Linked DNA regions of Homo sapiens. The protein of the gene in region 1 interacts with the protein of each later gene in a pairwise test. Each region holds a gene or a part of one and is shown on either strand. Other genes may lie near its edges.

What was found. Proteins that work in one complex are often made in the same cells at the same time.
Region 2: the proteins of MEOX2 (region 1) and NALCN interact in binary tests that used the Homo sapiens proteins (3 or more experiments, as listed by UniProt).
Region 3: the proteins of MEOX2 (region 1) and AGPAT1 interact in binary tests that used the Homo sapiens proteins (3 or more experiments, as listed by UniProt).
Region 4: the proteins of MEOX2 (region 1) and MAPKBP1 interact in binary tests that used the Homo sapiens proteins (3 or more experiments, as listed by UniProt).

What each region holds. Positions count from the first base shown.
Region 1 is NC_000007.14:15,620,684-15,624,183, forward strand, and holds part of MEOX2 (homeobox protein MOX-2), read right to left. Parts: intron 1-3,500. UniProt on the Homo sapiens protein: Mesodermal transcription factor that plays a key role in somitogenesis and somitogenesis and limb muscle differentiation. Required during limb development for normal appendicular muscle formation and for the normal regulation of myogenic genes.
Region 2 is NC_000013.11:101,413,709-101,417,822, forward strand, and holds the start of NALCN (sodium leak channel NALCN), read right to left. Parts: upstream 2,801-4,114; 5' UTR 2,605-2,800; intron 1-2,604. UniProt on the Homo sapiens protein: Voltage-gated ion channel responsible for the resting Na(+) permeability that controls neuronal excitability. NALCN channel functions as a multi-protein complex, which consists at least of NALCN, NALF1, UNC79 and UNC80.
Region 3 is NC_000006.12:32,167,712-32,170,398, forward strand, and holds the end of AGPAT1 (1-acyl-sn-glycerol-3-phosphate acyltransferase alpha isoform 1 precursor), read right to left. Parts: intron 2,550-2,687; coding exon 2,454-2,549; intron 2,406-2,453; exon of another isoform or gene 2,328-2,405; coding exon 2,255-2,327; intron 1,738-2,254; coding exon 1,565-1,737; 3' UTR 501-1,564; downstream 1-500. Other genes in the region: EGFL8 (epidermal growth factor-like protein 8 precursor), read left to right, coding at 199-245. UniProt on the Homo sapiens protein: Converts 1-acyl-sn-glycerol-3-phosphate (lysophosphatidic acid or LPA) into 1,2-diacyl-sn-glycerol-3-phosphate (phosphatidic acid or PA) by incorporating an acyl moiety at the sn-2 position of the glycerol backbone.
Region 4 is NC_000015.10:41,808,984-41,812,483, reverse strand, and holds part of MAPKBP1 (mitogen-activated protein kinase-binding protein 1), read right to left. Parts: intron 1,602-3,500; coding exon 1,539-1,601; intron 1,307-1,538; coding exon 1,249-1,306; intron 528-1,248; coding exon 357-527; intron 1-356. UniProt on the Homo sapiens protein: Negative regulator of NOD2 function. It down-regulates NOD2-induced processes such as activation of NF-kappa-B signaling, IL8 secretion and antibacterial response. Involved in JNK signaling pathway.

The DNA of each region.
Region 1 (3,500 bases):
ATACTTGGCATTGGGCCATTTGATGATTTATGAGTAAAAAACAAAACATAATCCCTCTCATTTCCACCAATGGAGTATGATCTCGTTAGGTGGGATTTTCCATTTATCTTGGCAGAAGTATCATTAATTTAGTCTGTTTATTCCAGTAATCTTAACTAGTTTACAAGTCTACAACATTACACCTTTGATTAGCTCTGTGAAAAAGATGTTTTGAAGTGAAAGGATCTCCCATTCTGTCTATATTTGGCAGCCTTAACTCTATAAAAATGTCCATTTTACCACTTCTTTTATATGCTCCTGCAGCTGCTTTCTCTCGTCTTCCCACTGTGAGATATTAAAAATCTGGTGGGAGTTTTCTCCAAGTTTATCTGGATGGAGAAAAAAACGCCAGAATAAGCTTGTCCAAATTAAAAATACCTTGAAACTGGAGAGCCTTTAGACTGAGTTCTCTGCAAATCATTCGGGGTGACTCTGACAATTGAAGATTATTATCTGTTGATCTTGAAGGTTATATGAGAATATGTTGTAAACTAGAAGCTGTAAGTTAGAAGCTAGAAGATTTACTGGAGTGATCTGTAACTGTTCAACAAACAACATTATATAATTAAAATATTTGAAGCTCAGCTTCATTCTAGTTTCTGCATTTTTATTTAACATAAAATGATTTTCTTTAACACTTGTGTGCTAACATGGAATTACTTTGCAGAATGAGCCTCTTTTTTTCCTTCTTTGGCCAGATGAAGTTCAAACAGAATTATAGACTACCCTGACATTGCATTATGGAAGATGCAAATGTAAGAGTGTGACATCTTTGTGTGATTCCATGACTATTCTTCAGAATGGAATTTGGAAATTCAAGTCCTGAGTGATATTTAAGGATTTAATATACCTTATGTTTTTCTAAAAGGAAACCTAATTATTATTGCAAATCTTCATGACACATATATGAGTCATCATAAAATTTGTGTTGGATATACTGATCGGTGATATAAGTAAGGTAGGGGTAGCCACAAATAACATCAGTGATAGACATGCACATTTTATTGTCAATCATGTACAATTTCCACATGACAATATGTCTAAAGACTAGTTCTGATTGTAAAGTAAGTTTTCATTTAGGAGAAAATTATTTCTCAAAAACAATTCTGTTACAGGCCAGGTGCCATGGCTCAAGCCCGTAATCTCAGCACTTTGGGAGGCCGAGGCTGGTGGATCACGAGGTCAGGAGTTCAAGACCAGCCTGGCCAAGATGGTGAAACCCCGTCCCTACTAAAAATACAAAAAATTAGCCGGGCATGGTAGCAGGTGCCTGTAATCCCAGCTACCAGAGAGACTGAGGAAGAGAATTGCTTGAACCCAGGAGGCGGAGGTTGCAGTGAGCCGAGACTGCACCACTGCACTCCAGCCTTGGTGACAGAGCGAGACTCTGTCTCAAAAAACAAACACACAAACAAAAGCAATCTTATTATATAATTTAATATTTGTTTTCCCTGTTTGCATGATATCTTTCTTTTGATGTAGATAGATATACATATAGTTAGAAGTATGGAGATGTGTATATATTTATATGCATACACATACATATATATCTGTGTATATGTGTGTGTATGTGTTTGCATATGTGTATATTTACACACACACACATAAAATGAGCCTATGAGTCCTGTCTCTGCTTTTGAATCACACACCCATATAAAATGAGCCTATAAGTCCTGTCTTTGCATTTGAATTTCAAAAGACCTTGACAATGTTAAGGAAACTATTTTATATTCAAATAATTCTATTAAAGCTAAGGAAAATATTGAACAATATGAGGTTAGATGTAATATTCCTTGGTGTATATGTTTATTTTACTGAATCTCAGGTTATTTTAACATATGAAAAAAATAAGTCTTAAAGAATGAATATGAAAAGACAACATATCTATAATTAGATATTTTACATGTGGAAATCCTAGGGAAGGATGTTGTTTAAGATTATATAGGGTCAAGATATAGATTACATGGCTAAACATAGCATTTATGAGATTAATATAAAATCTAAGTAATGGAATAGCCATGCTATGGTCTAAATATTTATGTCTCCTCCAAATTCTTATGTTAAAATCCTAACCCTCAAGGTGACGGCATTAGGAGATGGGGCCCTTGGAATGAGATTAGGTCGTAAGAACAGATCTAGCATTACTCAGATTAGTGCCCTTATTAAAGAGGTCCCAGAGAGCTACCTAGCCTCTTCAGCCATCATATCAAGGTAGAATGGAAAAATGGAAGTCTATGAAGAAGTGTGTGCTCACCAGACACCGAATCTGCTGATGCCTTGATCTTGGACTTCCCATCCTCCAGAACTGTGAGAAATAAATGTGTGTTGTTTATAAGCCACCCAGTCTATGGTATTTCATTATAGCAGCCCCAATAGACTACAAGCTGCATTGCAAATTACAGAAGATGGATTTTAAAGTGTTCTGTTTGTAATTCTGTTAATAACTTTAAAACCCCAACCTCCAGAAAATAAACTGAAAATATTTCACTGGGATGAGAGCCCTGGCATTTTGAAAGAATATGCCATCTGACCTTCAAGAATAGCAAAGTTGACAACTGACATCATAGTATATTTTTTCTGATAAATTCAGCACAGTAAAATTCAGCCCAGAAAATACAATATAACTTAAAATAGACACATAATTTAAGTATGTGATTTTTTTTTATATACAGAGTCTCACTTTGTCACCCAGGCAGGAGTGCAGTGGTGCAAACTCAACTCACTGCAACTTCTGCCTCCCAGGCTTAAATGTTTCTCCTGCCTCAGCCTCCCATGTACCTAGGATTATAGGTGCCTGCCACCACGCCTGGCTCATTTTTGTATTTGTAGTAGAGACGGGGTTTCACCATGTTGGCCAGGCTGGTCTTGAACCCCTGACCTCAAGTGACCTGCCTGCCTTGGCTTCCCAAAGTGCTGGGACAAGTACAGGCTTGAGCTACCACTCCCAGCTTGATTGTTAATTTAAGATATTTTGTGCACAGATTCTTAATTTAAGAAACTTAAGATAATATGTGTGCATAGAAATGTTGGAATGAAATGGTGCAACCAGAAACATTATCCAATACAATTACATCATTCCTCTCCTGTGACATTCTACACTCATAACAATTGTGAATATTTGTTCAATTTTTACCTCTTCTATGAATTCTAACAGGTATTTCTTTAGCTTAAGATTTTACTTCCAGCACTTAGCTCAACAAATATTTGTGTTACAAAATGATTAATTCAACATGCTTTGCATAGCAAAGGTTTTTCCCACCTGGGTGATAATTCTGTTTTATAGTTTACACTAAAAATTATTTCATACCCATTATGATATACAAATCTACATAGAAGAAAGAGCAGGTTTTAATTTCCATTTTATGCCTTGGGGAGATTGTTACTTACTTAAGAACACACAATTCTAATCAGCAAACCTTGGATTTTTATTCAGATTTTTTTCATAACAATTAAATTCTTTT
Region 2 (4,114 bases), on another chromosome or scaffold:
TATCATCTCTATCAACTTTGGTTACTTTAAAATTCAAAAAATCAATTAAAAAAATTTAAGCATTTGCATAGAGTTTGAAGGTATGAAAATCTGTGCTGGTCCTTGAGACAGGCGAGAATTGTATAACATGAGTGAAGCTCTAAAATGTTGATAACATTTTGGGACAGGGGCATTCTTTTTTTATTTTTAAACAGAGTCTCACTCTGTGCCCAGTCGCCCATTCTAGAGTACAGTGGTGCCATCATAGCCTGCTGCAGCCTTGACATCTCTGGGCTCACGCGATCCTTCCACCTCAGCCTCCCAAGTAACTGGGGCTACAGGTGTACACCACTACACTTGGTGAATTTTTTTTTTTTTTGTAGAGACGGGGTTTCACCATGTTGCCCAGGCTGGTCTGGACTCTTGGGTTCAAGCAATAGGCCTGCCTTGGCCTCCCAAAGTGCTGGGATTATAGGCATGAGCCACCGTGTGTGGCCTTGGGGACCATTCTTAATATGTTTAAGCTCACTATCATAGTTTCCACAGCAAAACTAGAAAATAAGACATCTCACTGTATATCCACCTGCTTACATATTTGTCTTTCCTGAAGGATTCTTAGGCTCTCAGTTTATCTCTTTTTCTCACTCACCACCCAGCTTCTGGCCCAGTGCTTAGCTTATCTTAGGATATAGAGGTGTAGATGTGAATTTTCATTCACAAACTTGAAATCCACATGTGACTCTGACCTGGGATAAATTTATACAGCTATGGAAATTCTGAAATTATCTGAACATCATCGATAAATGATAAAACAAATGTGTACATTTGTGTATACACATACATGCACACACAAAGCATGCCGGAATGATAAAATCACCTGGAAACCATTTCAAAGAAATGCCATACCCAAGAAGAAGAAAATGCTACTCAAATCTTCAGTTCACTAAATTGCAACTAAATGACACTATTTTGAGTAGACTTTTTTTAAGTACATTTTTTAAGTACATTTCTCCTTTGAATATCTTGCAAGTCCTATCCAAAGTTATAAGTGTACAACCACTATTTTATAAGACATGCTTTCTCCTAGAGTTCTGTAGAGATTTTAGCATAGTCCTTATCAGTGACGGCACATTTATTCTGCAAACAGATTATGTCTTCTATGAACACAGAAGAGGATCCAACTGAACCTTTTCACTTTTTAAGTTTTTCTCCAAAGCTGGATTTTGTCTTCACACTGTCTGGTTTTAGCAGTGGCTAGGTCAAAGTATACTACAGAAGAACGAAAAATCGACTCTAGAAAAGCACGCAGAATGACAGCCAACCAGTTAGGGAGTAAATGTTTCTCGTTGCAGATGTTTGGGAAGCCATGATTTTTATTTAGAACTGTGGAAACCTTATCTTTGAATTTAAAAAGCCAGTCCTGAGATGCATCTGCCTCAGGGGTAACTACCATAGTGAAACCGCTCCTCTCCCAGGCCATATCAAATCACAGTTGTAGTTATGAACATACAAATCACACACATATATATATATATATACATACATATATATTTCAAAATCGCCACCTGTTAATTTTTGATCCCCTATTAGAGGTGTTATCCACCAACTACTAACACGAAGGTCACTGGTCCTCAACCCACATTTCACCACCAGGGCAGTCGGGCCTAGCTGATGACCACACGAACACCAGATTAAGAGTAAAACCTTCTGAGGCCTGAAAGTGAGCGTGTATTCACACATCCTTAATAATACAGTGTCTGAAAAATTGTACCTGAAACTGAAAGATTTATTCTAAGGTATTTCAAGCACTAAGGGTCTGAGTTCAGCATTCTCACACCATCCTGAAAGAGGAACATTAAGTCAGCAAAATGACTGCGATCTGGGCCCCCAGAGGGATCCCAGCCAGGCCATCCTTGCTGGTGTCTTAAAGATTCAGTGACAAAATGGTGTTGCTTGGCAGGACACTGTTTTGCGTTCGGTGTAGCCACCCTAATGACGGCTGCTTAACAAGGCCAATGAATATCATAAGGGACATTTAGCAAGGAGCAATCCACAGGAGCATGGGGGTGGGGCAAGGCCGCGGAGCCCCCGCGGAGACCTGCTGGAGCCAGGCTGCCCACCCCCACCTCCCCACCCGCGCGTTGGCCCAGAGGTTTACCCAGGCAGCGGCCCTGGTGCCGAGGGGGCAGGTGCAGCGCTGTAGTGATGCCCAGTGGCCTCGTCCTCAGCCACCTGCCCCCCAACACCTGCTAGATGCCCAGGCGGGGCAGGCCCGAGGTGTCGCCGGCCCTGGGCTTCCCAAGCCAGCCCAGGGGCATCCCGCGGCAGGCGCCCCCGACACCCACGCGCAGGAATAGGGAGGGCGCATCGCGGCTCCCGCGCCCCGGCCAGGCCGGCAAGGACCCCACCGCCCCGCTCTCGGGTGGAGGCGCCCCTCCCCACCCCTCCCCCGCGCGGGGCCCCCGCCCGCAGCCCCTCTAGCAGCCCCTCTCGCAGCCCCAGCGCCCCTGAGCCGTCCTGGCCCGGACCGGCCAAGGAACTAACGAGCGCGCATCGCGGGCCTCGGGCGCAGGGCACGGAGCCGGCCGCGCCGCAGCCTCCCGGGCACCGGCGGCGGTGACCAACCTGTAACCCCAGCGCTCAGAGCTGTCATGGTGCCCGCGGGCGGCGGCGGCGGCGACAGTGGGCGACCGGCAGGATCAGTGCCAGGCGCGGCGCCCAGGGCGGGCGGGGACGCGGGCCCCTCACCTACGGCGGCTCAGCTCAGGCAGCGCGCTCGGCCCGGCTGGGGCCGCGGCTCACGCTCGCCGTGTCACTCACTGAGCGCCGCCGCCGCCGGGCAGGCTGGGGGAGGGGTGGGAGCCGGAGTTTTCGGGCCTTTAAAAAATTATTATTTTATTTAAATTTTTAAAGTTAGCTTTGCTACAGGGACTGCAGTGATGCCGAAGGGCGGGCACCGCAGAGGAGGCTGCGCCGCAGTTGGTGGGGAGCGCCAGGGTCGGTACTGGCAGTTCCTTCTTGCCGGCTGCCACCCGCAGTCAGTCTCACAGCAACAGCTAGGCTCTCATCTGCGAGCTCCTCTCGGGGGTCTTTCGTACTCAACAGCACGGCGGCGGTGTGCACGGGAGTCCGCCGGGCACACGCGGGGTACACTTAAGTGCACTGCCAGGAGGCCGGGAGCCCAGCGTGCGAGCGTGAGGTCAGACTGTGCACGGTACCGAGGACTAGTTCCATTCCTGAGTATGAAAGGGTGAAACCGTTCACCTCAAGTTTCACCCCGGAGTTATTAAATAATGAATGCATCAGTCACACTTATAGTTTTCTAAATAGGTTGACGTTCGCCTTTAAAATTAAAATATGTTGTCGTGTGGATGAGACAAAGTCTATTCAGAAATTGACAGTCCCCCACCCCATACCCTGTGAGTATACCTGGACAGCAGACTGCATCTGAGGCTTCCTAGGGCTCCCAGCAGAGCAGGTTTAGGGAAATCTGGCCTCCTAAGCACCATGCCCAGGGCGACATCCTCCCACTCATTCCCACTCTCTGAAAGGTTTACTTTGGGTCTGGAATCTTGCCATGTAGTCAGATACGAAAATCCCCAGGGAACTCCTGACCAGTGATTTAGACATCATGCACACAGGCATATAAATAAAGGGAAAGAAACAACTGAATGAAGCTTTCTCTACAAGAGAAATTCTAAACAAAGAGCATTTGTCTATCACAAAATGTTATGTGGCAAGGTATAGAAGTAAAACTACACAAACCTACATTTTAAAAATGTATTTTCTGGTTACAGATATTTAATTAATCTACTTTCTTAAAAAGTCCATTCACAATTTGTTCACATTCATAATCCATATTAGTACGTTTTATTGTTTACAGGGAAATGTTAAAATATTGGTATTTCATGAAATACAGAGTCATGCGAGATAATTTTTCAAATTTCTAAAGACTTCAGAAAAACTGTGTCAAAAGCCAGGTTTTAAACAAATGATGAAATCACTCCTCATAAGAAAAAATTGACAGTAATTTAAACAATGCTAAATCTACAACCAGTTTGCTTAGAAAAAGTATTTACCAACTTGTTTCATCATCTTTATTTGCGGCTTTCAATTGCTTGTTCTAAATACTAGT
Region 3 (2,687 bases), on another chromosome or scaffold:
CCCTCTCCATTCAGGCATTCCCTCTTTCCTCCAAGCCCCTCTCCAACATTCACTATCCTCATGCCTCTCCACTTTACCATCGTTCTCTTCTGAAATCCTGTCCCCAGCCCAACAGTTTCACTTATTGTTTGGTGAGAGTGGCAGTGTAGTCCACTCCAGGCTGACCACAGCCACTGTGTCTGCCATGTCATTAACCAGGCTCCTGTGAGGACAACAGCCTGGGCCTCGGCGTCAATCATCGATAAGAAGCCTCTACAGCACCCCTGCCCCCTAATTTATACAGAAACCGGACCCACTAATCCTCTGGGATTGGCCGACTGTGAGCTGCAGATAAGGCTATCAGCCACCAAAGAGCAATGAACAATGGAAACTTCAGAGAGCTGAAGAAAGGGGGAGGCCTGTGTTCTTGGCCTGCCCCTGAGTCTTCTGGCTGGGGGCAGGTTGCCTGGGCAAGAACTGCTTCTTCAATTCCTTAACAAATGCAACCACCAACACCCAGATCTCTCTCTCTCTTTATTTTCAGTTTTTTTGCTGTTATCCAGATAATTAATAAAAACCAACCACGCAAAACTGGGTCCCACCCTCTCCTTTTGCTCCCAGCCTACCTCCCCAGTTGTGGGAACAGGTCTGGAGTGAGAGGCAGGGAGTGGCTAATGCCACCAGGAAGAAATGAAAACTGGCTCAGAGAGGGGGAAGCCTCAACAGAAAAAGAAATAAATTAAAAGCCCTCCTATCCCCTCCAGCCAGGGTTCGTTCCTTTCCCCAACTCCCCAGGGGGCAGAAGTGAGTGCAGCACCTGATGTCTGCTTCTTCCCCTTGTGTCTGGTGAGATGGTGCAGCAGGGCTGCAGGGGGCTGGGTGGGGTCATGTCCACTGAAGAACTGTACTATGGGGACAGAAAACCAGAAATGTGGAGACTGAACTGGTATCCCAGAGAGTGCACGACCCTGGGCATCTGGGCAAGGGCAGGCATGAGACCTCTGAATTAGAAGGGTCCAGCCCCCACTGACAGGAGGCTACACTGGGAGGGAAGGTGAAGGTGCTGAGGAAAGCTCCCATGATGAGCCTGGGAGTGCTTCAGGTATCAGCTTCCAGCCAGAGGGCGAGAAGTCCTCCTCACAAATGGATGAGTCCATTGAATCCATGGACTTTGGAGTGGGGGGGATTTGTTCCAAAGAATGGATGAGTCCACTGGCCAATGTGGGGTAGAGGGGTAGAGAAGACCACATAGGAAGAGACTCCACTGGGGATGGAATGTTCCCCTCCCTTGTGTAGGCTGAGTCACTGGAGATGAGGGGGAGGCAACTGTCCCACAGACAAGACAGTAGGAGGTGGGGGTCAAGAGTGGAGACTGCACCGAGGCAAGAGTCCATGGATGGGGCCAAGAGGGGGCAGGAGTGGCGCTGTATCCACATTCACTTCAGAAGTTGAAGATTCCAAAGAGGAGAATAAGTGGGGAGAGGGGAGACAAGGAAGAGGGTTTGGCCCTGCTTCAGGGCCCACTGGGTGGGTAGGTGTGGGGAGGAAGATGGGGACAGATGGGAGGAGAGCTCAGAGCCAGGGTTCACCCACCGCCCCCAGGCTTCTTCAGATAGTCACCACCACCCCGGCCATCAGTGGAGATTTCCCGGAAAACAGTGAGCATGGAGTGCCGGACTCTGTCAGCCAGAGCTGGGACGTCATCTGGTGTCAGCCCTTCCGTGGGCACTGGGGGCAGCACCCGCACCTGACATTGTCCTGGGGCAAGGGGAGCACCATCATGGCCTGTCCACCCAGGTCTTTGCCCACAGGTGGGGCCCAGCTTCCGAGTGATACTCTTCCTCAACCTTTCAGTTCTCTTCCCCCAACCCTGGACAACCATCCCTGGGCTTGCCAGCTGCCACTTCTGAGGCCCTTCTCCTATACAAAGCCTTCTCCAATCCCCAGTTCAGACATCTCCTCAGCACCCCTCCAGCCCCCCTCCTCTGGGTTTGGCATTTACTGCTGAATGAGTGTTATTCATTACAGCTTTGTGCACACAGGCCTTATCTTTCCTGTTAAGATTAGTAACAGCCTCTCTTGGTGGGACCAAGTGCTACCCATCTGGCAGGGTATGGTGGGTGCTTAGTAAAGACTTATTGGCTGATGTGGGGTTAGACTAGATGACTGTGTAGACATCTCATGGCTCTGACACTGAATGATCCCCCTGCCTCACAGGGATGTCCTCCCAGCCTCTCCGGACACACCCTACCCCAGAACTGCTCAAAGCCCTCACCCGAGGTGAAGCGACGCTCCTTCTTGCAGTAGAAGTCTTGGTAGGAGGACATGACTATGGGGACAATGGGAACCTGGGGAAGGGTTAAAGCAGGTCAGTCCACAGCTCTCTTCAGAGACTCCTACAATAAGCCCCTGCCCAGAGATGAGGGAATGGTGGGGGTTGGCAGCTGAGTAGCAGAACGAAGAGCAGTAGTCACCTGGGCCTGCACTGCAAGATGGAAGGCGCCACGTTTGAAGGGCAGCATGGAGCCATTGTGGTTTCTCGTTCCCTCAGGAAACACCCAGACCCTCACCTGGGGGAGAAAGAGGGTCAAAGAAGACAAATACATATGGAGGAGTCAGAATAGGTGTGATGTTATAATGGGACCTTTGAGGCCCACTGGCCCTGCATATCAGTTTATTTACAACTGTTCTACTCTGTATCCCTCCAA
Region 4 (3,500 bases), on another chromosome or scaffold:
CTGTCTCTTGGAGCTAAGAAGACAGTGACTCAGAGAATGGAGGAGAATTAGAATTTGTACTTGACAAAGTGTTTCTTTCCAGAATTTACTGGCCAGAAAAAGAGGGGTAGGGAAATAATCCCTTTCTAGAGGAGCTGAAAAGATTCGTTTCCTGCAGAAGTCTTTGAAGGCATAAAGCTAGCCCCTTCAACCAACATGCTTGGCCACACAGTTGCTCTTTTCTGCTTCAAATAACTTTCTAGAATGAGAATGGTTCAGTGGGGTGGAATGGAGCAGTGCAGGTCAGCAGTCTCTTGCCTCCCCAGCTGACACTTGACCCCTGTGAGGCTGCCAGGCCACCCCACCCAGCCACTCACCTTCCAGGCCCACACGTTGACGATCATGTCATGCTGGTAGCCCACAGAGACAATGTACTTGGCGCTAGGAGAGAAGGCCACACAAGCCACACCATACTTGTGCTCCTGCAGCTCGGCCACCTGGCTGTGCTCTGCCACGTCCCAAACCCGCACGGCAGGCATGTGCCCACTCTGCAGGGAGGCAAGAACTGGAAGTGAGTTCTTGACTTCTCCACAGGCATACAGCCCCACTTCGTCTTCCAGAGCGGGGCCCTCGCCTCCTCAGCTACTAGATACCATCACTTCCCCAGCCAAAAGTCAGGGCAGGGTATAGAGGAAATATGATAAAGATCTGAGGGCAACAGTGATTACCAGGAAGAAAGTGGCCCCGGATTTTAGTCAGCATCTCTGGGTGGCCGTCTGTACTTCAGGTTGTTCAAAGCTCCCTGAATGGTTCTGATGGGCAGCCGGCATTGAGAGCCACTACCACTCAGGTCTATTTCTGCCCCTAGTAAGACTACGCCGCCAGGACAGAAGCGTTCCTCCTGAGCCCAGCAGGGGGCCCCCGGGGGTAAGGAATAGTTAAGGCAGTGGTTTCCAAAGCACGCTTCCTTCACCAGCAGGATCAGCACTCTCTGGGAACTTGTTACAAATGCACATTTCAGACTCCCATCCCAGACCTACAGAATCAGAAACTCTGAGGACCAGGCTAGTGATGTGTGCTTTCACAAGCCCTCCAAGTGATTCTGATGTACACTAAAGCTTGAGAACCACTATTTTAAGGTATAGCGAAAACCAGGATTTGGTGTCTGTTTCAGAAGCCAAAGTGACAGCAGGCCTAGGACCGCAGCTCTCTGCGGAGGCCAGGACACCTGCCCTCTTTACAGTACTGCCAGCCCTCTTCCTCACTCACCTCTCCAGTGACCAAGTACTTGCCATCAGGGGAGAAGGCAAGGGCAGTGATGGTTTTCCTGCAAGAGATGGGGCAGGCTCAGAGGGGCACTGGCAGCCTGGCCTAAGCCTAGCCCCCTCCCAGCCTCTCAAAAGGTGAGACCAGCAGACACCAATGGCACATGTGGCACTTCCCCATCTGGCTTTAGGACCCAACCAGGTCCCAGCCCCCAGAGCCATAGAGACTCTAGACAGTGCCCTTCTCATAGCTCCCAGAAGGAAGAGGTATCCTGAGGACCCCAGCCCATTTACCTGGAACTGTTGAGGATGTGGTGCTGTTTGTGTTTCCGGGGATTGAACAACACAACCACACACCTGAGGAGATGAGCAGACAACAGGCTCAGCAGCAAACCACAGCTCCCCCAGGAGCCCTCCAGGCCACCCAGGACTTCCAGTCACCCGGCAGAGGGAGCTGGGTAGAAAGAGCTCAGAAGGGCTCCACTGTTTTTTTCCTTTTCTTTTTTTTTTTTTTTTTTTTTTGAGACAGGATCTTACTCTGTCATCCCAGCCAGAGTGCAGTGGTGCAAACATGGCTCAGTGCAGCCTCAACTTGCAGGTTCAAGCAATCCTCCCACCTTAGCCTCCCTAGTAGCTGGAACCACAGGCATGTGCCACCATGCAAGCTAATCTTTGTATTTTTTTTTTTTTTTTTTTGTAGACACGGGATCTTGCCACGTTGCCCAGGCTGGTCCCAAACTCTTGAACTCAAGTGATCTGCCTCCCAAAGTGCTGGGATTACAGGCATAAGCCACCGTGCCCAGCCTCCACTGCTTTCTCCTGGCAACCTGTTCTTGCTCCTTTTCCCCACCCAAGAGGAACTATCTCTGTAGCCCCATGAGGGTGAAAGGGTTCCCTGGAAGCCTGTCCCCCCAGCCAGGCCCCTAAATACCAGCTCTATCTCTGGCCATACCCACAAAGGGCAGCAGGGACACAGGCCATCCCGCAGCCCTTGTGCATACCCCAGGAAGGGGTGTAGGAGGGAAGAAGAAATGTGATTTGGGCAAAGCAGGCCTCGGGTGCACAGCCCGTTCACAGGCTTGGGGCCACACGTGTATCAAGCATGTGTGCCTTAAGATGTAAGGCCTCTCACGTGTGCACCCACGTGTGTACCTGGCAAGAGCTGGCCCCCCACACCATGTGTTGAATAAGGAAGGAAGTGGGAGGCGAGGCAGGGGCCACACAGCAGAGAGGCTCAGTAAGATGGGGTGGGGGATAGAGATAGCCTGAGAAGGCCTGGGAAAGCCTTACAGTGCCACAGAGGTCCCAAGCCCCACCCTGAGAATCTCTGGCCCCAAGAAACCTGAGAAGAACCCCCCGACTGCCAGAAGCAGAATCAGGGACTCTGCCTGCCTCACAGAGAAGGTGGGGGCAACCTCTCCCGTCAGGCAGCAAGGCTGCTGGATGGAATCAGGTCCTGCCTTTCCAGAGGCAGCTCCGGAGATGGAAGCTGGGTAGTAGGAATCGGGGGCAAGAAGCCAAAGGCCAATAGCCAGGCAGCTTCTCTTTAGGCTTCCTGGCTGTCAGCAGGCCCTGGCCCGTTGCCCCTTCTGCCTCAACTCTTCATTAGCACTGGAAATAGCAGACAAGAGCAAGCCTGGAGACTGCGAATAGGAAAGGCAGGGAGGAGAGAAAGAGGAGACAGCTACTTCCCCCAGACCTAATTTTCCCTAGTGGGACCCCACTGCAGCCCCCATATCTGAACGCCACTACTGGCTGGAAACTTGAAGGGAGGTAGGTGCAAGTTGCTAGTGAGGGCTAAGCATCTTGGGCTCAATAAACCACTTTGATATGCAAATTTGGGGACACTGGGACCTCCGATGTGACTAGATATGCCCAGAACTGCCAGGCTGACCAACAGCTGTGGAATTCCTGAGTCACATCATTTTCTCCTCTAACCCCTCAACTCTTCCTGTTTTTTTTTCCTCCTTCTTTCTCCATTTCCTACTCTTTCCTTGTTCCTGTTTCCTTTCTCTGTTTTTTTGAGACAAGGTCTCACTATGTTGCCCAAGCTGGTCTTGAACTCCTGGGCTCAAGTAATCCTCCTGCCTCATCCTCCCAAGTAGCTGGGATTACAGGCTCATGCCACCCTGGCTCAGCCCTTCCTTCATTTTTTTTTTTTTTTTTGAGGCAGGGTCTCGCTCTGTCACCCAGGCTGGACTGCAGTGGCACCATGGCACCATCACAGCTCCCTGCAGCCTCGACCTCCTGGGCTCA